7 linked regions of the Homo sapiens genome follow. The gene in region 1 interacts genetically with each later gene. Each region holds a gene or a part of one and is shown in the gene's direction. Other genes may lie near its edges.

Region 1 (3,500 bases):
CCACCTCCCTGTTTCCCTAGACAAGCCTGAGGAGCCGACGGCACATGCCTTTGTGAGCACCCTCACCCGGGGGGACCTGTCCTCCATCCGCTGGGTCTGCTCCTCGCTGCGCCATGCCCAGCCCACCTGCCCTGGCGCCCAGCTCTGCACGGTCTACTACGCCTCCCTCAACTTCCGCGACATCATGCTGGCCACTGGCAAGCTGTCCCCTGATGCCATCCCAGGTATGGGTGGCATGGGGCCGTGGGAGTGGACTGGGCCGGGGAGCAGAGACCCCAGCAGCTAGGACCTGCCTGGGAGCCCCTCGGGAGGGAAGGGCAGGCGGTGAGGGGCTCAGTGCCGTCTCCCCCAGGGAAGTGGACCTCCCAGGACAGCCTGCTAGGTATGGAGTTCTCGGGCCGAGACGCCAGCGGCAAGCGTGTGATGGGACTGGTGCCTGCCAAGGGCCTGGCCACCTCTGTCCTGCTGTCACCGGACTTCCTCTGGGATGTGCCTTCCAACTGGTGAGTGTGTCGAGGGTGTGAGCCTGGGCCCCACGTGGATGGCGGCCAGGCCTGTGCTGACCCACCTGCTGCATCCCCAGGACGCTGGAGGAGGCGGCCTCGGTGCCTGTCGTCTACAGCACGGCCTACTACGCGCTGGTGGTGCGTGGGCGGGTGCGCCCCGGGGAGACGCTGCTCATCCACTCGGGCTCGGGCGGCGTGGGCCAGGCCGCCATCGCCATCGCCCTCAGTCTGGGCTGCCGCGTCTTCACCACCGTGGGTAAGGCCCCGCCCCCGGTGCCTCCCGCTGCCCTCCTGGCCCCGCCGCCCTGGCTCACCAGCCGCGCTTCCTCTCTTCACCAGGGTCGGCTGAGAAGCGGGCGTACCTCCAGGCCAGGTTCCCCCAGCTCGACAGCACCAGCTTCGCCAACTCCCGGGACACATCCTTCGAGCAGCATGTGCTGTGGCACACGGGCGGGAAGGGTGAGTGGCCCCCACAGCCCCCACCTGCCTCCTGCCTAGCCTCCGGCCCAGGGAGAAGCAGGGTCTGGCCCTCTGGACTGTGGTGGCTGGGCTTGCAGTGGGTGTGATTGTCTGGCCCCTCTGGCCCCCTAGGCGTTGACCTGGTCTTGAACTCCTTGGCGGAAGAGAAGCTGCAGGCCAGCGTGAGGTGCTTGGCTACGCACGGTCGCTTCCTGGAAATTGGCAAATTCGACCTTTCTCAGAACCACCCGCTCGGTGAGGCCGGCAGCGCCTGGGCGGGGGTGGGCATGGATGGGTGTGGGTGGACCTGTGGAAGGCCCTGGGTGAGCACGGCCCCTGCCCGCAGGCATGGCTATCTTCCTGAAGAACGTGACATTCCACGGGGTCCTACTGGATGCGTTCTTCAACGAGAGCAGTGCTGACTGGCGGGAGGTGTGGGCGCTTGTGCAGGCCGGCATCCGGGATGGGGTGGTACGGCCCCTCAAGTGCACGGTGTTCCATGGGGCCCAGGTGGAGGACGCCTTCCGCTACATGGCCCAAGGGAAGCACATTGGCAAAGTCGTCGTGCAGGTGAGGGGAGGAGTCCCGGCGCCTCGGGCACCCCAGGCTCTGGTCCCCAGGCAGTGCCTGAGCCGGTGGGTGCTGCTTGGACGCAGGTGCTTGCGGAGGAGCCGGAGGCAGTGCTGAAGGGGGCCAAACCCAAGCTGATGTCGGCCATCTCCAAGACCTTCTGCCCGGCCCACAAGAGCTACATCATCGCTGGTGGTCTGGGTGGCTTCGGCCTGGAGTTGGCGCAGTGGCTGATACAGCGTGGGGTGCAGAAGCTCGTGTTGACTTCTCGCTCCGGGATCCGGACAGGTGAGTCGGCAGGGGTGCTTGTGGACCAGCCTGGGCCAGGCACAGCCCCGGGCCCCTGAGCCCTTCTCTGCAGCCCACCATTGTGGGCTGTCACGGTGCCTGGGGTCTGTCCCCCTCCATCTTGTGGGGGGCTTGCTGGATGGGGCTCTGCGGCTGCTCCCCACTTCCCCAGCCCGGCGTGTAGGGAAGAGACCGTACCCTGGCCCAGTCCAGCCCACAGTCCTGTGTCCCGCAGGCTACCAGGCCAAGCAGGTCCGCCGGTGGAGGCGCCAGGGCGTACAGGTGCAGGTGTCCACCAGCAACATCAGCTCACTGGAGGGGGCCCGGGGCCTCATTGCCGAGGCGGCGCAGCTTGGGCCCGTGGGCGGCGTCTTCAACCTGGCCGTGGTGAGGGAAGGCCCCAAATGGGGCCCTCAAAAGCCCCAAGACCAAGGGGGGGACCCTGGGTGGACGGGTGAGGCCCTGGAGCTGCAGGGAGTGCTGAGGATGCCTCCCCCAGGTCTTGAGAGATGGCTTGCTGGAGAACCAGACCCCAGAGTTCTTCCAGGACGTCTGCAAGCCCAAGTACAGCGGCACCCTGAACCTGGACAGGTGGGTACCGCACAGCCCTGCTCCCGCCTCTGCCGGGCTCTGGGCTCAGGGCCGTGGGAGCCAAGGTGGTTTGTTGACAGCCCTCTCTGGCGTTTCCTGGGGATGGGACGTTGGGGGCTCCTGGGGATGCTGGCCAATGGGGAGTGACACGCGTGCCCACAGGGTGACCCGAGAGGCGTGCCCTGAGCTGGACTACTTTGTGGTCTTCTCCTCTGTGAGCTGCGGGCGTGGCAATGCGGGACAGAGCAACTACGGCTTTGCCAATTCCGCCATGGAGCGTATCTGTGAGAAACGCCGGCACGAAGGCCTCCCAGGTGGGCCCCACCCTCTCCCCTCGACCCTGCCCACCCTGCCCTCTCCCAGTGGCCACTCCCCACCCCCACCTTCTCCCCGCAGCCCTGCCCACCCCACCCTCTCCCAGTGGCCACTCCCCACCCCGACCTCCCCGCAGCTCTGCCCACCTGCCCCCTCCCCCACAGGCCTGGCCGTGCAGTGGGGCGCCATCGGCGACGTGGGCATTTTGGTGGAGACGATGAGCACCAACGACACGATCGTCAGTGGCACGCTGCCCCAGCGCATGGCGTCCTGCCTGGAGGTGCTGGACCTCTTCCTGAACCAGCCCCACATGGTCCTGAGCAGCTTTGTGCTGGCTGAGAAGGCTGCGGCCTATAGGGACAGGGACAGCCAGCGGGACCTGGTGGAGGCCGTGGCACACATCCTGGGTGAGCACTCCCAGTAGGAGCCGCGCCAGGTGTTTCCCCTGCTGGCATCAGGGTCTTGGGACATAGCAGTCGTGCCCCTGTGCGCCTCAGTTTCCCCATCTGCAGAGCCAGGGTGCGGGCGCAGGTGTCACTGTGGTGGTGGTGCTTTGGGAGATGCACAGCCCACGCACCCCTGGGTGTCAGCCCTGCCGCATACAGGCCGTCCCCATGCCCCCTCTGGAGTTGCCGACCCGGCGCATCCCTTCCAGGCATCCGCGACTTGGCTGCTGTCAACCTGGACAGCTCACTGGCGGACCTGGGCCTGGACTCGCTCATGAGCGTGGAGGTGCGCCAGACGCTGGAGCGTGAGCTCAACCTGGTGCTG
Region 2 (3,500 bases), on another chromosome or scaffold:
TCGGACTCCTGGGCTCAAGTGAGCCTCCCACTTCAGCCTCCCAAGTAACAAGTACCCCAGGCGTGCGTCACCATGCCAGGCTAATTTGTAAATTTTTTGTGGAGGTGGTGTCTTGCTATATTCTCTAGGCTGGTCTTGAATTCCTGGGCTCAAGTGATCCTCCCACCTTGGCCTCCAAAAGTGCCAGGATTACAGTTGTGAGCCCCTGCGCCGGCTGTAATACATTTTTTGTCAATGCTTGTGTTTGGTAAATAAATATTGAATGCATAAATGGGAAAGAATTAAACCAGAAAGAGAAAACAGTATTTATTGAGCACCTTCAATGAGCTTGCTATTAATATGCGTCCATTCTCAAGCAGTGAAATGGAAAGTCCTCTAGTAATTTCTTTCTTTGAGATGGAGTCTTGCTCTGTCACCAGGCTGGAGTGCAGTGGCACGATCTCGGCTCACTGCAACCTCCGACTCCCTGGTTCAAGCAATTCTCCTGCCTCAGCCTCCTGAGTAGCTGGGATTACAGGCACGCACCACCGTGTCCAGCTAATTTTTTTTTTTTTTTTTTTGTATTTTTAGTAGAGACGGGGTTTCACCATGTTGGCCAGGATGGTCTTGAACTCCTGACCTCGTGATCCGCCTGTCTCAGCCTCCCAAAGTGCTGCGATTACAGGTGTGAGCCACTGCGCCCGGCCTAGTAATTTCTTTTAGTAGTTTTCAGTTTATAATCCCAGGGTTTAAATCTCATATATTAGTTGACATAGGAAAAAGTCATCCTTCTGGGAAAGGGGGAGAATGCCCAAATCTTTATAGAGCACTTTTTAAAATAAAGAGATTCAAAATAATGATAACAATTATTCAACAACCACCATCATTAGGAAAGTTTATTGTATTTTAAAAAAGTAAACACTAGATGATACCTGCAAAGAGTTCTTTCAACTATTTAAGAATACAGGGTATTATTATTATTTCCATTTCCACTTAAGAAAATAGATTAATCATTTGCTCAAGGTCACACAGTAAATAAAGGGCAAACATGGGGACCAGGACTCAGGGCTTCACACTAGCAATGCTCCTTCTTTGAGCATTGCCACAATTGAATCCCAAAGGTACTGGAGCAGGAGTTGTGGTAAGGAGGTTACAGGGCTTAGAGCTATGACCCTAAACAACTTTTTTTTTTTTTTTTTTTTTTTGGAGATGGAGTCTCGCCCTGTCATCTCACTCTGTTGCCCAGGCTGGAGTGCAGTGGTGTGATCTCAGCTCACTGCAACCTCCTCCTCCCGGGTTCAAGCAGTTCTCCTGCTTCAGCCTCCCAAGTAGCTGGGATTACAGGCACGCACCACCAAGCCCAGCTAATTTTTTTTGTATTTTTAGTAGCGATGGGGTTTCACCATGTTGGCCAGGCTGGTCTCGAACTCCTGACCTCAAGTGATCTACCAGCCTTGGCCTACCAAAGTACTGGGATTACAGGCCTGAGCCACTGTGCCTGGCCCCTAAACAATTCTTTGATAAAGCCAGTGGTTCTGTTTATTGGCATTGTGCTTCCTGTTCCTATACTATTTCCCTTTTTATGTAGCTCTTCCTACTAATTTCTTCCTCCTTTTAATTTTATTATTATCAATTTGTTTTCCTTTATCCTCTTGTCTCTCTTGTCCTCTCCAGTGGCATGATGATGTTGTCTGCCATATCTTTAGTTTTAACTTAGCGGAGTAATATGTAACATGAAAGAACATAAAAGAGATGTTTGAAAACAATACTGGGAATTCATATTTACCAAGTACTACGAAATATGTGACAAAGCCTTCTCAGATTTGTTTATCTGATCCTTTTCTTAAGCTACTTGTTTGTATGATAGAGAAAAAAAGTTCCATTAACGGCATACTGGAAGCAGCAGTTTTCCAATTATTATGAGGAGTTGACACCTCTGTGCCTGTGTCTAGGCTAATTTAGTCTGGACTGTTAACAAAATGAATCAGTAGTCCATATGAAGACCTTCCTGGCTGTTTTTAAGCTACCGCTGAAAATCAGACAGATAAAATGTATTTATATTTTTTACAATTAGGAGTTGAAGTTATATTCTGTAATATTAAAATATTTTTTTCTTTACGATTTTAGACCAGTCTGCTTAGTTTTAAGTGAAATTCCTTTTATGTCTACTTGGTTTTTACTTGTGTCAACATTTAGGTAAGTCATATCAATTTCCATATATTTTCAGTATAATTCTTGTAAACTAATTTAAAACTTTTTTATGAAGTGGTTATGGTTTGAATTGATAATTCTCTTGTGATTTTTAAAAATTTTCCTTTACAGTATGCTACCTCTTCTATTGAAGGATGAACTCCTAATGCCCTCTGTTGTGACAACAATGGCATTTTTTATAGCTTGTGTAACTTCCTTTTCAATATTTGAAAAGACTTCTGAAGAAGAACTGCAGTTGAAATCCTTTTCCATTTCTGTGAGGAAATATCTTCCATGTTTTACATTTCTTTCCAGAATTATACAATATTTGGTAAGTTCAATTTTTAAGAAATGACACATTTTTCAGCATGTCACTATTTTAAAAAATTATTGAAGTAGTGATTTTCTTTTATACCTTTTTGAGATATAATTCACATAAATCCACTCATTTAAAGTATACAACTTAGTGGTTTTAAGTATGTAAACAGATTTGCACAACTATCACCATCATCTAATTTTACATTATTTTGTCACTCCCAGAAGAAATTCTGTACCCATTAGCATTCATTCCCAATTCTATTCTCACTCCTAACTCCCTTCCTTGGACAGCCAGTTTCTGCCTCTTTAGATTTGCCTACTTTGGACATTGCATATAAATGGAATGTATTAGTCTGTGATAGCTGCCATAACAAAATACAACAGAAATTTATTTTCTTACAGTTCTAGAGACTAAAAGTTCAAGATCAAGATCAAGGTTCTACCATCAGGGTTGGTTTCTGGTGAGGCCTCTCTTCCTGGCTTGTAGAAGGTCTCTGCTTTATGTGTCACACATGGAGAGAGACCTCTGTTGTCTCTTCCTTTTCTTGTAAGGACACCAGTACTACTGGATTAGGGCCCCATTCTTATCATCTAATTTAACCTTATTTACCTCCTAAAAGGCTATATCTCCAAATAACAGTCACATTGGGGGTTAGGGCTTCAACATATGAATTTTAATTCAGTCCATAACATGGGATAATAAAATTGTGGTCTTTATGACTCGGTTCTTTCACTTAGTGTGTGTGTGTGTGTGTGTGTGTGTGTGTGTGTATTTATTTATTTTTTTGAGACAGAGTCTTGCTCTGTCACTCAGGCTAGAGTGCAGTGGCATGATCTTGTCTCACTGCAACCTCTGCCTCCTGGATTCAAGCAATTCTCCTGCCTCAGCCTCCCTAGTAGCTGGAACTACAGGCATGCGCCACCATGCCCAGCTAAATTTTGTATTTTTAGTAGAGATGGGATTTCAGTATGTCGGCCAAGCTGTTCTTGAACTCCTGACCTCATGATCTGCC
Region 3 (2,380 bases), on another chromosome or scaffold:
CGCCAGTACTTACTTGTATTATGACACTGCTGGCAATGGCTGCTCTTAGACTCTTGAGTGTTTGGGGCCAATTTTCAAAAGGTCCTAATCAAGAACACAAAATTCCTGCATGTGATTTGAATTAGGTTCAAAATGGTCAAATACAAGTTCAGTCTGAAAATGCACACGCCTGTAAGAGTGTATCTTAATTGTACTCAAAGTTAGCTCCTTACTCCTCAGGAAGTGGAAACCCCTGAATGAAACTGACTTTGTGTGTGAATTTCTCACTTTCTGAATCCAGTTCAGTGTGTCCAGAGAGGCATGTGCTTACAACATAGATAGTTTTTTTCAGATGTAGTTGTATTTGTTAAGATTTTTTTGGTTGTAAATGATAGAAACCAACTCTAATTTGAGCAAAAGCCAGCATTTATTGGCTCATAACTGGGAATTCTAAAGGGTCAAGTTGGAGTCAGGTATAACTATATGTACAGGGACTATAATCAATCATGTCATCAATCACTTCTCAATTTTTCTCTGTCTCACAGTTTTGAATTCATTCTCAAGGCATGGCCACCGGCAGTTCAAGGCGTACCTCAGCCTTACAGTTATAATCTTCCATAGCTCCAGCAAAAGTCCCAGGGGAGACCTGATTAACCCACTTGGGTCACAGAGCCTTGTCAGAACCAGTCATTGTGGCCAGGAGCATGGAGTGCTCTGATTGGTCAATCTGGGTCACATGCCCACCCTTGTTGAGGGTAAGGAAGGAGGTTTAGGAATTATCTTACCACATGGAATTGGTTACCTATAAGAATGAGGAGTTCTGATGTCGAGAGAAAGAACAACAGGTAACTTTTATTGGGCAGACAAAAACTAGAACTGCCAAAGTCAGTGGATTTTGCTTTACTGAGTCAGATTTCTTTAGAGCTTATGGGGAAGGGAATGGGTTTTGAAATTTTTTCTTTTAAGAAGTGATGCATAGATTTAAAAGTAATCTAATAGGTTAATTTATGGTATGTGAATTATATCTGGTAAAACTGTTTATTTTTGTAAGGTCATTAATCTGCATTCTCCATTATCTTCATTTTCAGAGGATGTGAAGCCACTGAAAGCTTGACTCAGGGAAAAGAAATGTGGGACCATCACACACATGAAAATGGCTATAATCCTCACTGTATTTTCTTGTTCTTCTTGAAAAATATAGGATTTGATTCCACAGTTCTTCTTGACTTTTTGATTTCATCAGAAACCTGTTTTCTTGAATATTTTGTTAGATATTTAAAATTACTGCAAAAGGACTGGGATAATTTTTTCACCATTTGCAATAACTTTGATGCAACTGAATCTAAATATGACATAAGTATTTGTGGCTGTGTCCCCTCACTTGTCCAAGACCAAAGCTCCAACCAAACAATACCCCATCGTTTGACTGCTCCTCATAGTCACAGAGATGTGTGTGCTCGGCACTCCTGGGCTTCCGATGCTCCCTCTGAACCACTGAAAGCTGTGATGTCCAAGGGGGCTCACACCATGTGTGCTTCTAGTCTGTCTTCCCCCCGGGCCTCTCAAAGTCTGGTAGATTACGACAGCTCTGACGATTCTGACGTGGAATCCACAGAGCAGTGTTTAGCTAACAGTAAACAGACATCTTTACACCAGCAAGCAACTAAGGAGATTCAGGATGCAGCTGGGACAAGCAGGGATAAAAAAGAATTTAGCCTTGAGCCTCCATCAAGGCCTCTGGTTCTGAAAGAATTTGATACTGCCTTCTCCTTTGATTGTGAAGTAGCCCCAAATGATGTCGTCTCTGAAGTGGGAATATTTTACAGAATAGTAAAATGCTTCCAGGAACTACAAGATGCCATCTGCCGTTTGCAAAAGAAAAATCTTTTCCCATATAATCCAACTGCACTTTTGAAGTTGTTAAAATACATAGAGGTGATAAGTAATAAAACTATGAACACTTTGTAAAACATTGACATTTTATTTTCCAGGTATTGTTTTTCCTTAATATAAATTATGTCTCAATGAGGTAATAGTATAAAATCATCACCATAAAAGGGTTTTCTTTTTTTTTTTTTTTTTTGAGACAGAATCTCATTCTGTCGCTCAGGCCGGAGTGCAGTGGCGTGACTCGACTCACTGCAACCTCCACCTCCTGGGTTCAAGCAATTCTCCTGCCTCAGTCTCCCGAGTAGCTGGAATTACAGGTGCCCGCCACCACGCCCAGCTAATTTTTGTATTTTTAGTAGAGACGGGGGTTTCACCATGTTGCCAGGCTGGTCTCAAACTCCTGACCTCAAGTGATCCGCCTGTCCGCCCTCCCGAAGTGCTGGGATTACAGGCATGAGCCACTGTGCCCGGCTGGGTTTTCTAGACAAGTTCTTACTTTTTGCCTTATTGG
Region 4 (3,500 bases), on another chromosome or scaffold:
ACATTTCTACTTTACTGAATGTAAATATAACATCAGATTTTATAGTATCAGATAATATACATATAATATCAGATTTGTGGACTTACAGGTATACTGAAGGCTCAAATGGCTTTTACTGATTCATCTCTTAAATAATGGCAAATCACACATAAGAAACACATGCACGTATTTATTAATGAATGTTGGTGATGAGTCACTAAGTTTTGCAGGCTCTAGGAATAATCTTTAAATATTGGCTGGAATTTTATACTTGATGTCTTTCTATATTGCCAAATGGCTATGAAATAGAGCAATTTAAATAAAGAAACAAAGTGATTGAGGATATATTCCCTATGTGTTTTAGTCAGATCAATAAGACACAGTTATGCTTATGGAAGCGTGCTGACAAACAGTAATTACAGAGCTGAGGATCATCTGTTCAGTCTTGAAAATAAAAGTTTTATTCTGCTCATAATAAAATGATTGCAGCATCAGAATGAGGAAGGAAAGGTAGAATGAGGATAAATACAATTTTAGAAATGGTATAGACTTTGCAAATCACCACCTCTTCCATTGATAAATTTAGAATCTAGAGTTGAGTTAGATATTGACACTGGTTCTCCAAGAGAAAGGTAAAATAAAAGCAATCGGACTCTTTAGAGCTTTTGTTTATGGCCTGTCTGGGCCCTTTGTTGTAACCCTGTCATGCCCTTATGCTGATTACCTTCTTGTAGAACAAGAAGTATTGACTAGAGAATGAATGATGTGTAGTCCCTAGCCCTTAGGAAACTCTCTCAAAGAGCAATGTCTTTAACATATGAATTCTGTTTTTTTCCTCCTTTTACCTTTCCCTTTCCCTTTCTCTATTTTTCACCATCTCTTTTGTTTCTACCTCTTTTGGTCTCTGTGCTTGACACTCTCTCCTCTTTCTGTCTCTCTTTGTATCTCCTCAATCTCAGGCTTCTCTGCAGAATGTCAAACAAAGATCGACACATTGATTCCAGCTGTTCGTCCTTCATCAAGACGGAACCTTCCAGCCCAGCCTCCCTGACGGACAGCGTCAACCACCACAGCCCTGGTGGCTCTTCAGACGCCAGTGGGAGCTACAGTTCAACCATGAATGGCCATCAGAACGGACTTGACTCGCCACCTCTCTACCCTTCTGCTCCTATCCTGGGAGGTAGTGGGCCTGTCAGGAAACTGTATGATGACTGCTCCAGCACCATTGTTGAAGATCCCCAGACCAAGTGTGAATACATGCTCAACTCGATGCCCAAGAGACTGTGTTTAGTGTGTGGTGACATCGCTTCTGGGTACCACTATGGGGTAGCATCATGTGAAGCCTGCAAGGCATTCTTCAAGAGGACAATTCAAGGTTAGTGTCGGACCTGGGAATACTCTCCCCACTTCCAACCTCACATGATGGGTTTTTGTTTTTCCTTATTCTTATTCTCATAAGTCAAGTATCATAGTTTTAATTCTCTCTTGAGTAGAAAATGGAAATAGATTACAATTGATAGTGGAAGATTTATAGAATAAAATCCCCCCAGATATACTCCATATCTATTAATTTTCCTCTTACTGTTAAGCTTTAATGGTGCAAGGATAATAAACTTTGGGTAGAGTTTACAAGAGCATAGTTATTATTAGAGCAATGTGGGTCTATATAGCAACTGTACAAATGCACATTGGACTAACAGTGTTTTTGACCCCTTTGGATCTTCTTACAGATGCATGGAAATAATAAATACTTTAGACCAGTGATTTCCAAACTTGAGTGTGCATTAAAATCATCTGGAAATCTTGTTAAAATGCAGATTCCTGGGTCCTACCTCCAGAATTTCTGATTCATTAGATCTGGGGTGGGGGCCTGCCTGAGATTGTATATTTTTAACAAATTTTCAGGTAATGCTGATGATGCTGCCGGTCCAGGGACCAATTTTAAGAATCACTGCTCTAGACAAATTTAATTACCTACTCATCTTTCTTTTTTCCTTATGGTTGGATATACTTTTTCTAACTTTTAAATGAATTTATATTAAAAAAAACCTTCCAAATTATACCAATAAAATGGCATTGAATGATAAAATATACCTCCAACATATATAAGTGATATATACCCCAAACTTCATAGATTTCAGATTTATAAATAACATTATTTCCGCCATACAGTGTAGAAAAATAGGACTGAAATTTGTTTATGCCCTTTTAAACTGGTAATCTACAGATCTAGAATTCAGTTCATGAAAAAGCTATAGATATATATTCTGGCAAAAAAATTAGATTTCACGTTTTTAGGTCTCTTGTAATTCACTTTTGAAGAAAATAGGGGAAGAAAAAAATATATTTTGAGGATCCACAGCACACCAATGGTTCTGCTCAGTGGTTTACAAAATGTGTCTTCCTAACAACCAGTTATGGACACAAAGTCTATCTTCCCACATATCAGTGGTTCTCAAGCTTGCCAGCTCATTGGAATCAGTGGAAGACTTAAAAAAACATGCTGATGTCAGGGCTCATGTCCCCAAATTCTGAATTAATTGGTCTTGGGTACAGCCAGGGAAAGGGGGGTTTTTGAAAGCTTCCTAGGTGATGCTTAATGTAAAGGCAAAGTTAAGAAACACTGCACTGTACTGTGTTGTATTATTTGCCAACAGTTCTCAAAGTGCAGTGGCTGTACCAGCAGTACCAGCATCATCTGGGAAAATGTAAGAAATGCAAGTTCCCAGGCCCCATCCTGTATTAACTCAAACAGAATCTCTGAGGGTGGGCCTAGCAATCTGCATTTTACCAACCCTCTGGGTAATCCTGATGCTAATTCAAATTTAGACCCCCTGCTCTAGACCATGCTACTGCTGATTCACCACTGACCATAGACCATCATCATCTAATGGCCCCTTGCTGGACAGAACTGAAACTAATTTATGTGGAGCCTTCATAATTTTGTGACGTACTAGTTTTCAAAGTACAAAAGAAGTAATGTTTGTTAAGTGCTAATCCTTTTAAATATTTTCACAAAACATGATTCTGAAACCCTTTATGTGTACATAGAGCAGTCTCCCACCTTCTCCCCCTTTTTTTTTTCTTTTTGAGGCAGATTTTTACTCTTGTGGCCCAGGCTAGAGGGCAATGGCATGATCTCGGCTCACTGCAACCTACATCTCCTGGGTTCAAGTGATTCTCTTGCCTCAGCTTCCCAAGTAGCTGGGATTACAGGCATGCACCAACACGCTTCTCTAATTTTGTATTTTTAGTAGAGACAAGGTTTCACCACATTGGCCAGGCTGGTCTCGAACTCCCGACCTCACGTGATCCACCCGCCTCAGCCTCCCAAAGTGCTGGGATTACAGGCATGAGCCACCGTGCCCGGCCCACCTTCCCTTTTAAGAGCATCTGGAAATTCAACTCTTCTTCATCAGTTGCACTGAATATTTTAGTGACAATCCTTACTTGTACTGGCTCTCCCTTGCTTTTTTGTTGTCTGTTACATAACTTCCTTGATCTGTGGCTGATGAGAACAC
Region 5 (3,500 bases), on another chromosome or scaffold:
GTTTTTTCTTTTTAAAGTAATGACGTCTCCATGTTTGGGGAATGCAGAAGTTGTTAATCATGGCATCAAGGGATAAACTAAAGAAAATGGCACTTAATTTTAGCTTAAGTTACTTTATATATTTAATTTTGTAAGCAGAAAAGTATAGGACTCTAGATTCCATGACTACATCCTGAACAATTAAGTGGCCAAACTGGATATCATGGAAAATAAGGGTTGAGTCTTTTTTTTTTTTTTTTTTTTTTTGAGACAAGGTCTTGCTCTGTCACCCAGGCAGGAGTGCAGTGGTGCAATTTCGGCTCACTGCAGCCTCTGCCTCCCGGGTTCAAGTGATTCTTGTGCCTCAGCCTCCCAAGTAGCTGGGACTAAAGGCATGCGCCACCATGCCTGGCTACTTTTTGTACTTTTTAGTAGAGACGGGGTTTCACCATGTTGGCCAAGCTGGTCTTGAACTCCTGACTTCAACTGATCCACCTGCTTCAGCTTGTACTACTAAAAGTACAAACATTAGCCAGGCATGGTGGTGGGCGCCTGTAATCCCAGGTACTCAGGAGGCTGAGGCAGGAAAATCGCTTGAACCCGGGAGGTGGAGGTTGCAGTGCATCGAGATCGTGCCACTGCACTCCAGCCTGGGTGACAAGAGTGAGACTCCATCTCAAAAAAACAACAACTATTTTATGTATCAGATTGCATCCTTTAAAAAAAAAAAACCTCAATTATTATGTTTCTTAAATTTGGAGTTAGACTTCTCTAATGGTTTTTGACATTATACAGAAAAAAACTAGAGATTCTTAAGCTTTATTTCATCATCTACCTTTAATCCTCTTATCTGCCATTCAATTCTGACATATGGATTCTTACTCTGAACTGAAATTTTTTATTAGATGTAGTAGTCCCAAGGATCTGGTTTTATGCTGTAGTAATTCTGAAACTTTTACTTGTAATATCTTACTCTCCAAATACAATTGTCTATCTTTCTACCTTACTCCCTTTAATATACAGTCTCCACCAGGATCAATCAAGATCTATTGATCTTGTCACCTTTTCATTTTCCCTTATCCCCCTTATGTATTCACTTCCCTATTTAACTCTGCTTTGTCATTGTCAGATCATCATTATCACTCTCAAAGAGCGAGAGGTCCTCTCTCTTTTTTTTTTTTTTTTTTGACAGAGTCTCGCTCTGTTGCCCAGGCTAGAGTGTAGTGGCGCGATCTTTGCTCCTGGGTTCAAGCAATTCTCCTGCCTCAGCCTCCCGAGTAGCTGGGATTACAGTCGCCCACCACCACGCCTGGCTAATTTTTTTGTATTTTTGTAGAGATGGGGTTTCACCATCTTGGCCAGGCTGGTCTTGAACTCCTGACCTCATGATCCACACGCCTCGGCCTCCCAAAGTGCTGGGATTACAGGCGTGAGCCACTGCTCCCGGCCACTGGTCTCTCTCTTAATTGTACTTGTTTGACTACCAGTATCCTGATTATCCCTAAATCTTCACCTACTCTATGTGTTTACCTGCACTCATGGGGCCAAATTTACATGGAGAAAAATCTGCCAGCTAATTTTACTCCAGGCTAGAGTGTGGTGGCGCACACTGCTCACTGCAGCCTCAAAATCCTGGGCTCAGGTGATCTTCCCACCTCAGCCCCTGGAGTAGCTAGGACCACAGAAACATGCCACCATTCCCGATTAATTTATTTTTTATTTATTTTTTATTTTTTTGGAGAGACAGGGTCTTGCCATGTTGCCCAGGCTGGTCTCGAACTCCCAGGGTCAAATGATCCGTCCACCTCAGCCTCCCAAAGTGCTGGGATTACAGGTGTGAGCCACTCACTGCACCCAGCCTATATTTCTTTAGCCCATTCATTCTCCCACTCTTAGATAGTTGCATAGTTTTTTCTTATTCTTCAAAACTATACTGTAATACTTTCTGCCCTGTTTCACTCTCTGTTGCTGAACTTAACTCCCTATTTCTCTGAAAAAAATTGAAGCGCTGAGAAGATAAATAAGAGAATTTTCATAAGCTCTGTCTCTGAAACATCTATTCATCTACCAGCATCTATGAATGTACATCTTCTCTTCTGTTACTAGAGATAAATTATATCTGTTCTCCTAGCTAAGGCCAGCCTCCCTCACTTCTGTATTTCAATTGATGTTGTCTCCCTTAAGGATAATGCTACAGCAGTTCTCCTTTTCTCTATTACATCATCGATTTCCCTGTCTCTGTTATAACCACCCCATTGGCATTTATGCTATTATTTATTCTGTCCTTAAAAAAGAGCTCTTCTTAGGTCCAGAGGTGGTGGCTCATGCCTGTAATCCCAGCACTTAGGGAGGCCGAGGCACAAGAATTGCTTGAGCCCGGGAATTGCTTGAGCCCAGGAGGCAGAGGCTGCAGTAAGCTGAGATCACGCCACTGCACTCCAGCCTGGGCAACAGAACAACAGAACGAGACTCTGTCTTCAAAAAAATAAAATAAAATAAAAATAACGCTGCTTTAGATCCTGTTTCTACTTTTAGCTACTGCCCCATTTCCTTCTGGCTTTTTAAGCATAATTTCTTTAACAAATTGTCTTAATTTACTATCGAACATTTTCCTTCCTTCTTTTTTTTTTTTTTTTTTTTTTGGGACAGAGTCTCGCACTGTCACCCAGGCTGGAGTGCAGTGGCACGATCTTGGCTCGCTGCAAGCTCCGCCTCCCAGGTTCACGCCATTCTCCTGCCTCAGCCTCCCGAGTAGCTGGGACTACAGGCGCCCGCCACCATGCCCGGCTAATTTTTTTTGTATTTTTAGTAGAGACGGGGTTTCACCGTGTCAGCCAAGATGGTCTCCATCTCCTGACCTCGTGATCCGCTCGCCTCTGTTTCCCAAAGTGCTGGGATTACAGGCGTGAGCCACGGTGCCTGGCCCATTTTTCTTCTTTCAAGACATTCTAATATGACCTTTGCCCCTGGCAGTATACCATATCACTAAATCTAATGATGACTTTCAGTTTTCTGTCTACCTCATTGATTACTCCTTTCTCAGTTCTACTTTGCTGTCTGATGAGTACATGTTGCAGTACCCAATGACTCTGTCATTGGGTCTTCTCTTTTTACACTTAACTAGGCTTATTTCCTTCATCTTTGGCTTTAAATACCAACTATGGTCTGACTCCCAAAAGTTTTCTCTCCAGCCCTGTTCCCTCCTCCAAACTCCAGACCCATATCCAATTGCCTAATTACCATCTCTACTTACAGATTTAACATGTCCGTAACTAAGCTCTTGATATTCCTGATATTTGGACTTTGCTTTTATGAGGGTTTTTTTTAGTCCTCACTATGTGTTTGGCACCATGCTAAATGCTTTATATACTTTGCTACATTTAATCAGCACAATAGCTCTGAGGTAGCTCCATTTTATTGATGAGGAAAGTCAGGCTCAGATTAGGTTGTGTGCTTCAAGGTTACAAAGCTAAAGTGGTTAAGCTGGGATTCAAACCTGAGTTTGGTGTACTACCAGTAAT
Region 6 (3,500 bases), on another chromosome or scaffold:
GCCACGGCCACCTACCTTAGGGCCAAGTAATAATAACAATGTAGCCACTTTTGGAGCTGGATCTGTTGGTAATTCACAACAATTGAGACCAAATTTAACCCATAGTATGGCAAGCATGCCACCACAGAGAACATCAAACGTAATGATCACATCCAACACAACTGCACCAAACTGGGCCTCTCAAGAAGGAACAAGCAAACAGCAAGAAGCCCTGACGTCTGCAGGAGTCCGCTTCCCCACAGGTACACCTGCAGCCTATACCCCAAATCAGTCACTGCAACAGGCAGTAGGTAGCCAGCAATTTTCCCAGAGGGCAGTGGCTCCTCCTAACCAGTTAACACCAGCAGTGCAAATGAGACCCATGAACCAAATGAGCCAAACACTAAATGGGCAAACCATGGGTCCCCTCAGGGGTCTGAATCTCAGACCCAATCAGCTAAGCACACAGATTTTGCCTAATTTGAATCAGTCAGGAACAGGGTTGAATCAGTCGAGGACGGGCATCAACCAGCCACCATCCCTGACGCCCAGCAATTTTCCTTCACCCAACCAAAGTTCCAGGGCTTTTCAAGGAACTGACCACAGCAGTGACTTAGCTTTTGACTTCCTCAGCCAACAAAATGATAACATGGGCCCTGCCCTAAACAGTGATGCTGATTTCATTGATTCTTTATTGAAGACAGAGCCTGGTAATGATGACTGGATGAAAGACATCAATCTTGATGAAATCTTGGGGAACAATTCCTAAAGAAGAAAGGGAAGACAATTTACAAACTCCAAGCACTAAAAGGCAGTATATTACAGAAACTCTGTAGAGGCTGAACTGTTGATGTTCAGGTGGACTACATGAAGATAACATGCTTAAAAATGGAAAGCAGAAAGTAACTGCAGTGATGAACATTTTGGTCCAAATTCTTGTTTTAAATCTTACACCTGAAAGTAAAATATTGGGATCACTTTTCCCTGTCTAAACTCCAGGATACAGTATCCAATTTATCCAAACAGAACTGTGGTGTCAATGTGTAATTAATTGTGTAAAATAGCCTTCCCAAGTTTCTTTTTCCCTGGAAAATAAAAAAGGTAATAGAACTTGTAGTTTATTTAAACCCCATGTCATGAGGAGGTACTAGTTCCAAGCAACAAACTCCTTAATTTGCTCTAATAGATAGGTATGGTTTAATCTTTCCATTGTGTCTTTTCATTTAATTTTCCTGAAGCTTGCAGGATAGATTGAAATGTTATAGGTTTGTTTGGAGTAACCAAACAGTATGCAAATTAAGAAAAAGCCAGAGAACCTAGAAAACATCCAGTGGATTACAGAATTTCTTCCCCATATTCACTCCTCACTTTTACAATTTTCCCACAATCCTCTACTTCAGTGGGATGCTGTGTCTAGTGATTAAACAAAAATATAGAGCTGTGCAATTTGATTTTGGCTTCCACAACGAATATCTGAATCCATTCCAAATGAAATTTTAGATATAACAAAGACTTGTCCTAATCATACTGAAATATTGGTGCACACCTCTCTGCATTAGATTTCACTTTTTTAAAAAACCCAGTGGACATTGCTATAAATAAGATTTATTTGGCTACAAATAACCTGGGATGTTGCTTATTATGATTGATGCCTGCTGGTTTGTTCCCAAGCTGAGTGAAATTGAACCTCGTCCTCCCTACTCATTTTGATGACTGAGGCTGGTTTATAAGAAAAGGAAGTTTGGAGAAGAAAACCGAGATTAGAAAATATCATGTTTTGGTTGGAGATAAGAACCAGGGATGGCAAGTACCAGTGTGTACAAATGTATTTCACGGAGTTTGAAGGAACGCATAATCAAGAGGGAAAACAATTTGTCCTTCATTGGACGTATTATTTGGATTTGGGTGAGCAACAAAATGGAATGTGGTCTGTTAGGAGCATTCTGTTTGTTCTTTTGTCCCTGATGTGATGAATCATTGCCACATGCTAGATGGACTCTTCATATCCAGGTTTTGTCCCTCAGGGCTGAGCACTGTATTAAAGAGTTTTTGTTGAGTCATTTAACCTTAGTGTCCACATCCAGATCAGCTGTAAAATGGGGAAGACGTGTGCTGATTTGGAATGAATGCAAAATATCACTATCATTTTCCTAATTACAGAGGAGCAAAGGTTATCTTCAGCCCTTTCAGTTCTATGCTCACATATTCAAATATCAAATGTAATTTAGCTGAAGTTATTTAATAATCAAGTCTTTCAATATCTGTTCAAAGAAAAAGAACACACTTTGAAAATTCTGCAAAGCTGTCTCCCAGTCTTTAAAATGTCTGGAAGCACTCTCCTTCTTTACAATACCAACATCACTGGCCCAGAATCTTCCCTGTGCTAGTTTGTAAATATAAATAAATTACTTGTTTTGTAAACTTTTGTAAAGAATATTTTGGTAGAAATACTTCAAACATATTCTTTGGGTTATATTTATACATATGTGAAATAAATATACTATCAAAAGGTTATATTTTATACAAAAAGTAAATTGCTACCTTTTGTATGCTAATATGCAAAGTTTTGTATAATATGATGGTTTATTTTTAGCTCTACACTTAAACCATAGGTGGTTGAGTGGGAACTTTTGAAAACTATCAAGAGGCTTGTTAGACAAATTTATATTCTGAAACCTCAATAAGAAAGCATTCCAGGTTTCAATCCTTGTTTTTTGTCCTGCTCCCAAATTCTTTTTTAAACCCATAGTTCTTGTGTCTTATTTGATTCTTCTGCTGTGCACATTGTATTGGTCCTTGTTGCATGTAGTCTACTGTGTGTTTTCCGATTTTATAAGGCAGCATTTCTCCATACAAAAAGAAAAAAAATGATGTACATATAAACGCTTTTGTTGTATGGCTCCTCCATGTTACTGTATATATCTGCCAGCACTTCCCAGTTACACTCCTGTGAGTCAGCTTATTTTTACCCTAACATAAATAGTATGTTTTGTAGTAGTTATCAAATTTAAGAGATAAAGCAATCAGAATGTTTGGATTTTCTTCTATCTTAATGTGAATTTCATAATTAATGTCTATTTATTCAGCTATTCATTAAAATACAGGATTCTTTGGGAAAACATGATGTGTAGTCTGTAGTTTGTTTGTTAGCAGCCTATTACCAAAGGTGACATAATTTTCCTGAAAGCAGAGATAATGACAATTTGATAGACATATTTAGCTAAAACCTTAAGATTTACAACTTAAGAGCTATTGGAATACAATCTGCCATTTTTAGAAATACCAGACCACTTAATTGTTGGCATTGTTTATCATCCTGACATAGAGAGGAGGTAGAAGCAATTTTTCTTTTTTGTTTTAAGTCAAAGACTAGAAAGCAGTTTAAGCAAGTAATTCGGTCTTGGCTTTGTATTAAGCCCTATGAAGATAAATAACTCTGCTCTAAGTGAATGCGCTAATGTTACCTGCATTACTGTAAACGTACCATAACGGTAAAGATTTCAACTTGTAAAACAAGTATG
Region 7 (3,500 bases), on another chromosome or scaffold:
CTGAGATCTAACTCAAGTGGCAACTTGCCCTGCAGCATTTGGAGAGTCTCGGCCCGAACTGGGCTCTGAGGGCCTGGGGTCAGCCGCTCACGGCTCCCAGCCTGACCTCCGACGAATCGTGGAGCTGCCTGCACCTGCCGACTTCCTCAGTCTGAGCAGTGAGACCAAGCCCAAGTTGATGACACCTGACGCCTTCATGACACCTAGCGCCTCCTTGCAGCAGGTACTCTCCCAGGGTAGGGGGACCTGGGAATGCCTCAGCCACAGGCCACAGGTCTTATTTCCTGCATCTCCCCAGATCACTGCCTCTCCCAGCAGCAGCAGCAGCGGTAGCAGCAGCAGCAGCAGCAGTAGCAGCAGCTCCCTTACAGCTGTGTCTGCCATGAGCAGCACCTCAGCTGTGGACCCCTCCTTGACCAGGTGAGGCAAGGGTCAGAGATGGAGGATGGCAGGGGCTGGTACCAGATGATGCCAAGCTCTGGCTGCTGACACCTCAGCCTTCCCCCACCAGGCCACCTGAGGAGCTGACCTTGAGCCCCAAGCTGCAGCTGGATGGCAGCCTGACAATGAGCAGCAGTGGCAGCCTTCAGGCAAGCCCGCGTGGCCTCCTGCCTGGCCTGCTCCCAGCCCCAGCTGACAAACTGACTCCCAAGGGGCCGGGCCAGGTGTGTGACTGGGTGTGTGTGTGAAGTGTGGGGAGCAGGTGGGCAGCAGCAGGGAAGGTGGGTGGTGGGCTCCTCCCAGCCCCCTGCTGCTGATCCTGCTCTACCCGACATGGTCCGTGTTTCCCTGAGGTCATTTCACCCTCCTGTGTTTCCTGGTGGGTGTCTCCTCAGCCTCCCTGTCCCCACCTCCTCTTCTTGGCTGTGGCCTCGTTTTTGACCTGTATCCCCACTTCCCTGCTGCCCTGTCTCTCATTACTGCTAATACTAATGCCTCGTCTCTGTGCCCCCCATCTCTGCCTCACTTCCTGTCACTTAAGCCCCCATCTTTGGCCCACCTCAGGTGCCTACTGCCACCTCTGCACTGTCCCTGGAGCTGCAGGAAGTGGAGCCCCTGGGGCTACCCCAAGCCTCCCCTAGCCGCACTCGTTCCCCTGATGTCATCTCCTCAGCTTCCACTGCCCTGTCCCAGGACATCCCTGAGATTGCATCTGAGGCCCTGTCCCGTGGTTTTGGCTCCTCTGCACCAGAGGGCCTTGAGCCAGACAGTATGGCTTCAGCCGCCTCGGCACTGCACCTGCTGTCCCCACGGCCCCGGCCAGGGCCCGAGCTCGGCCCCCAGCTCGGGCTTGATGGAGGCCCTGGGGATGGAGATCGGCATAATACCCCCTCCCTCCTGGAGGCAGCCTTGACCCAGGAGGCCTCGACTCCTGACAGTCAGGTTTGGCCCACAGCACCTGACATTACTCGTGAGACCTGCAGCACCCTGGCAGAAAGGTGAGGAGCTTGGGAGGGGAAAAGTGTGCTAGCAGGAGGGGCTTCAGATAGATTCATCCATGGCTAAGTTGGCCTGTCCTCCCAGCCCCAGGAATGGCCTTCAGGAAAAGCACAAGAGCCTGGCCTTCCACCGACCACCATATCACCTGCTGCAGCAACGTGACAGCCAGGATGCCAGTGCTGAGCAAAGGTGGGAGCCACTCTACACCATTGCCCTCATGGGGGGATGGGCAGCAAGTGGGCAGGGGCTTACTCCTCCTTCCCCTTCCCACAGTGACCATGATGATGAGGTGGCCAGCCTTGCCTCTGCTTCAGGAGGCTTTGGCACCAAAGTTCCTGCTCCACGGCTGCCTGCCAAGGACTGGAAGACCAAGGGATCCCCTCGAACCTCACCCAAGCTCAAGAGGAAAAGCAAGAAGGATGATGGGTAGGGAGAAATCCTAGGGAGGGAGAGGGTGGTCTCTAGGCTGCCTCACATAGCCTGAGGTGCTTCTCGCCTATGGCAGGGATGCAGCCATGGGATCCCGGCTCACAGAGCACCAGGTAAGTGAATGAGCCCACTTTGTACTTGTGGAACTTCACCCTGGGCGGGTGGAGAAGGGCTCTGGGCCATTCCCTGGTCTGGTGTGTGGGAATAGGTGGGGCAGGCATCGTGTGACTGTCAGTGCTACTGACAGGTGGCAGAGCCCCCTGAGGACTGGCCAGCACTAATTTGGCAACAGCAGAGAGAGCTGGCAGAGCTGCGGCACAGCCAGGAAGAGCTGCTGCAGCGTCTGTGTACCCAACTCGAAGGCCTGCAGAGCACAGTCACAGGCCACGTAGAACGTGCCCTTGAGACTCGGCACGAGCAGGAACGTATCCTTGAGACTGGTAGCACAACATGGCATAGGGACGGGGGCAGCATTCTTGGCCTGGGAAGGAGTACACGACCTGCTCCAGGCCCGTTCCTTAGCTATGGCGCAGAGCGGCGGCTGGAGCGAGCACTGGCTGAGGGGCAGCAGCGGGGAGGGCAGCTGCAGGAGCAGCTGACACAACAGTTGTCCCAAGCACTGTCGTCAGCTGTAGCTGGGCGGCTAGAGCGCAGCATACGGGATGAGATCAAGAAGACAGTCCCTCCATGTGAGTTTTGCATGCAGACTCCCTTTGGGTGGTTCAGGTGGGAGTGGGGTACCTGTCAAGCTTCTTCTCATGGCTCCACCTCACCCTCTTCCCCTCTCCCAGGTGTCTCAAGGAGTCTGGAGCCTATGGCAGGCCAACTGAGCAACTCAGTGGCTACCAAGCTCACAGCTGTGGAGGGCAGCATGAAAGAGAACATCTCCAAGCTGCTCAAGTCCAAGGTGCTATAGGGCCCAAGATGTGGGTGGAGGTGGTGGTTCCTGGGCCTAGTCAGGCCAGGCTGGGCTCAGGCTTTCAACTTGGCCCCTCCCTCTAACCCCAGAACTTGACTGATGCCATCGCCCGAGCAGCTGCAGACACATTACAAGGGCCGATGCAGGCTGCCTACCGGGAAGCCTTCCAGAGTGTGGTGCTGCCGGCCTTTGAGAAGAGCTGCCAGGCCATGTTCCAGCAAATCAATGATAGCTTCCGGCTGGGGACACAGGAATGTGAGTGGGGTCATATGGCCCAAGGTGGGAGGGGTTATCCTCTTTCCTACTGTTCCTCTTATAGTCCCTGTGGTCACCCCTCAGACTTGCAGCAGCTAGAAAGCCACATGAAGAGCCGGAAGGCACGGGAACAGGAGGCCAGGGAGCCTGTGCTAGCCCAGCTGCGGGGCCTGGTCAGCACACTGCAGAGTGCCACTGAGCAGATGGCAGCCACCGTGGCCGGCAGTGTTCGTGCTGAGGTGCAGCACCAGCTGCATGTGGCTGTGGGCAGGTGTGTGGGCAGAGTACTGGGCAAGGTGGTGGGCTTGAGAAAGGCCAGACTAGGCTCCCTGTCCACTTCACCTCACTCACTTCCCTTTGCAGCCTGCAGGAGTCCATTTTAGCACAGGTACAGCGCATCGTTAAGGGTGAGGTGAGTGTGGCGCTCAAGGAGCAGCAGGCCGCCGTCACCTCCAGC

The links.
Region 2: changes in FASN (region 1) and ALG6 together harm fitness more than expected from each alone (negative genetic interaction), as found in Homo sapiens cells (one large-scale study listed by BioGRID).
Region 3: changes in FASN (region 1) and LINS1 together harm fitness less than expected from each alone (positive genetic interaction), as found in Homo sapiens cells (one large-scale study listed by BioGRID).
Region 4: changes in FASN (region 1) and ESRRG together harm fitness less than expected from each alone (positive genetic interaction), as found in Homo sapiens cells (one large-scale study listed by BioGRID).
Region 5: changes in FASN (region 1) and RLF together harm fitness more than expected from each alone (negative genetic interaction), as found in Homo sapiens cells (one large-scale study listed by BioGRID).
Region 6: changes in FASN (region 1) and MAML2 together harm fitness more than expected from each alone (negative genetic interaction), as found in Homo sapiens cells (one large-scale study listed by BioGRID).
Region 7: changes in FASN (region 1) and EDC4 together harm fitness more than expected from each alone (negative genetic interaction), as found in Homo sapiens cells (one large-scale study listed by BioGRID).

The regions. Positions count from the first base shown.
Region 1 is NC_000017.11:82,081,237-82,084,736, reverse strand, and holds part of FASN (fatty acid synthase), read left to right. Parts: intron 1-20; coding exon 21-224; intron 225-352; coding exon 353-503; intron 504-583; coding exon 584-762; intron 763-845; coding exon 846-965; intron 966-1,097; coding exon 1,098-1,220; intron 1,221-1,311; coding exon 1,312-1,535; intron 1,536-1,621; coding exon 1,622-1,823; intron 1,824-2,058; coding exon 2,059-2,210; intron 2,211-2,322; coding exon 2,323-2,414; intron 2,415-2,576; coding exon 2,577-2,728; intron 2,729-2,893; coding exon 2,894-3,136; intron 3,137-3,384; coding exon 3,385-3,500. UniProt on the Homo sapiens protein: Fatty acid synthetase is a multifunctional enzyme that catalyzes the de novo biosynthesis of long-chain saturated fatty acids starting from acetyl-CoA and malonyl-CoA in the presence of NADPH.
Region 2 is NC_000001.11:63,426,627-63,430,126, forward strand, and holds part of ALG6 (dolichyl pyrophosphate Man9GlcNAc2 alpha-1,3-glucosyltransferase), read left to right. Parts: intron 1-2,106; coding exon 2,107-2,175; intron 2,176-2,301; coding exon 2,302-2,500; intron 2,501-3,500.
Region 3 is NC_000015.10:100,568,805-100,571,184, reverse strand, and holds part of LINS1 (protein Lines homolog 1), read left to right. Parts: intron 1-524; exon of another isoform or gene 525-734; intron 735-1,067; coding exon 1,068-1,947; 3' UTR 1,948-2,380.
Region 4 is NC_000001.11:216,674,930-216,678,429, reverse strand, and holds part of ESRRG (estrogen-related receptor gamma), read left to right. Parts: intron 1-938; coding exon 939-1,354; intron 1,355-3,500. UniProt on the Homo sapiens protein: Orphan receptor that acts as a transcription activator in the absence of bound ligand. Binds specifically to an estrogen response element and activates reporter genes controlled by estrogen response elements.
Region 5 is NC_000001.11:40,202,887-40,206,386, forward strand, and holds part of RLF (zinc finger protein Rlf), read left to right. Parts: intron 1-3,500. UniProt on the Homo sapiens protein: May be involved in transcriptional regulation.
Region 6 is NC_000011.10:95,976,196-95,979,695, reverse strand, and holds the end of MAML2 (mastermind-like protein 2), read left to right. Parts: coding exon 1-748; 3' UTR 749-3,098; downstream 3,099-3,500. UniProt on the Homo sapiens protein: Acts as a transcriptional coactivator for NOTCH proteins. Has been shown to amplify NOTCH-induced transcription of HES1. Potentiates activation by NOTCH3 and NOTCH4 more efficiently than MAML1 or MAML3.
Region 7 is NC_000016.10:67,879,552-67,883,051, forward strand, and holds part of EDC4 (enhancer of mRNA-decapping protein 4), read left to right. Parts: intron 1-35; coding exon 36-223; intron 224-298; coding exon 299-420; intron 421-511; coding exon 512-665; intron 666-1,005; coding exon 1,006-1,439; intron 1,440-1,524; coding exon 1,525-1,629; intron 1,630-1,713; coding exon 1,714-1,866; intron 1,867-1,945; coding exon 1,946-1,982; intron 1,983-2,116; coding exon 2,117-2,294; coding exon of another isoform or gene 2,295-2,402; coding exon 2,403-2,558; intron 2,559-2,660; coding exon 2,661-2,776; intron 2,777-2,877; coding exon 2,878-3,043; intron 3,044-3,127; coding exon 3,128-3,314; intron 3,315-3,406; coding exon 3,407-3,500. UniProt on the Homo sapiens protein: In the process of mRNA degradation, seems to play a role in mRNA decapping. Component of a complex containing DCP2 and DCP1A which functions in decapping of ARE-containing mRNAs. Promotes complex formation between DCP1A and DCP2.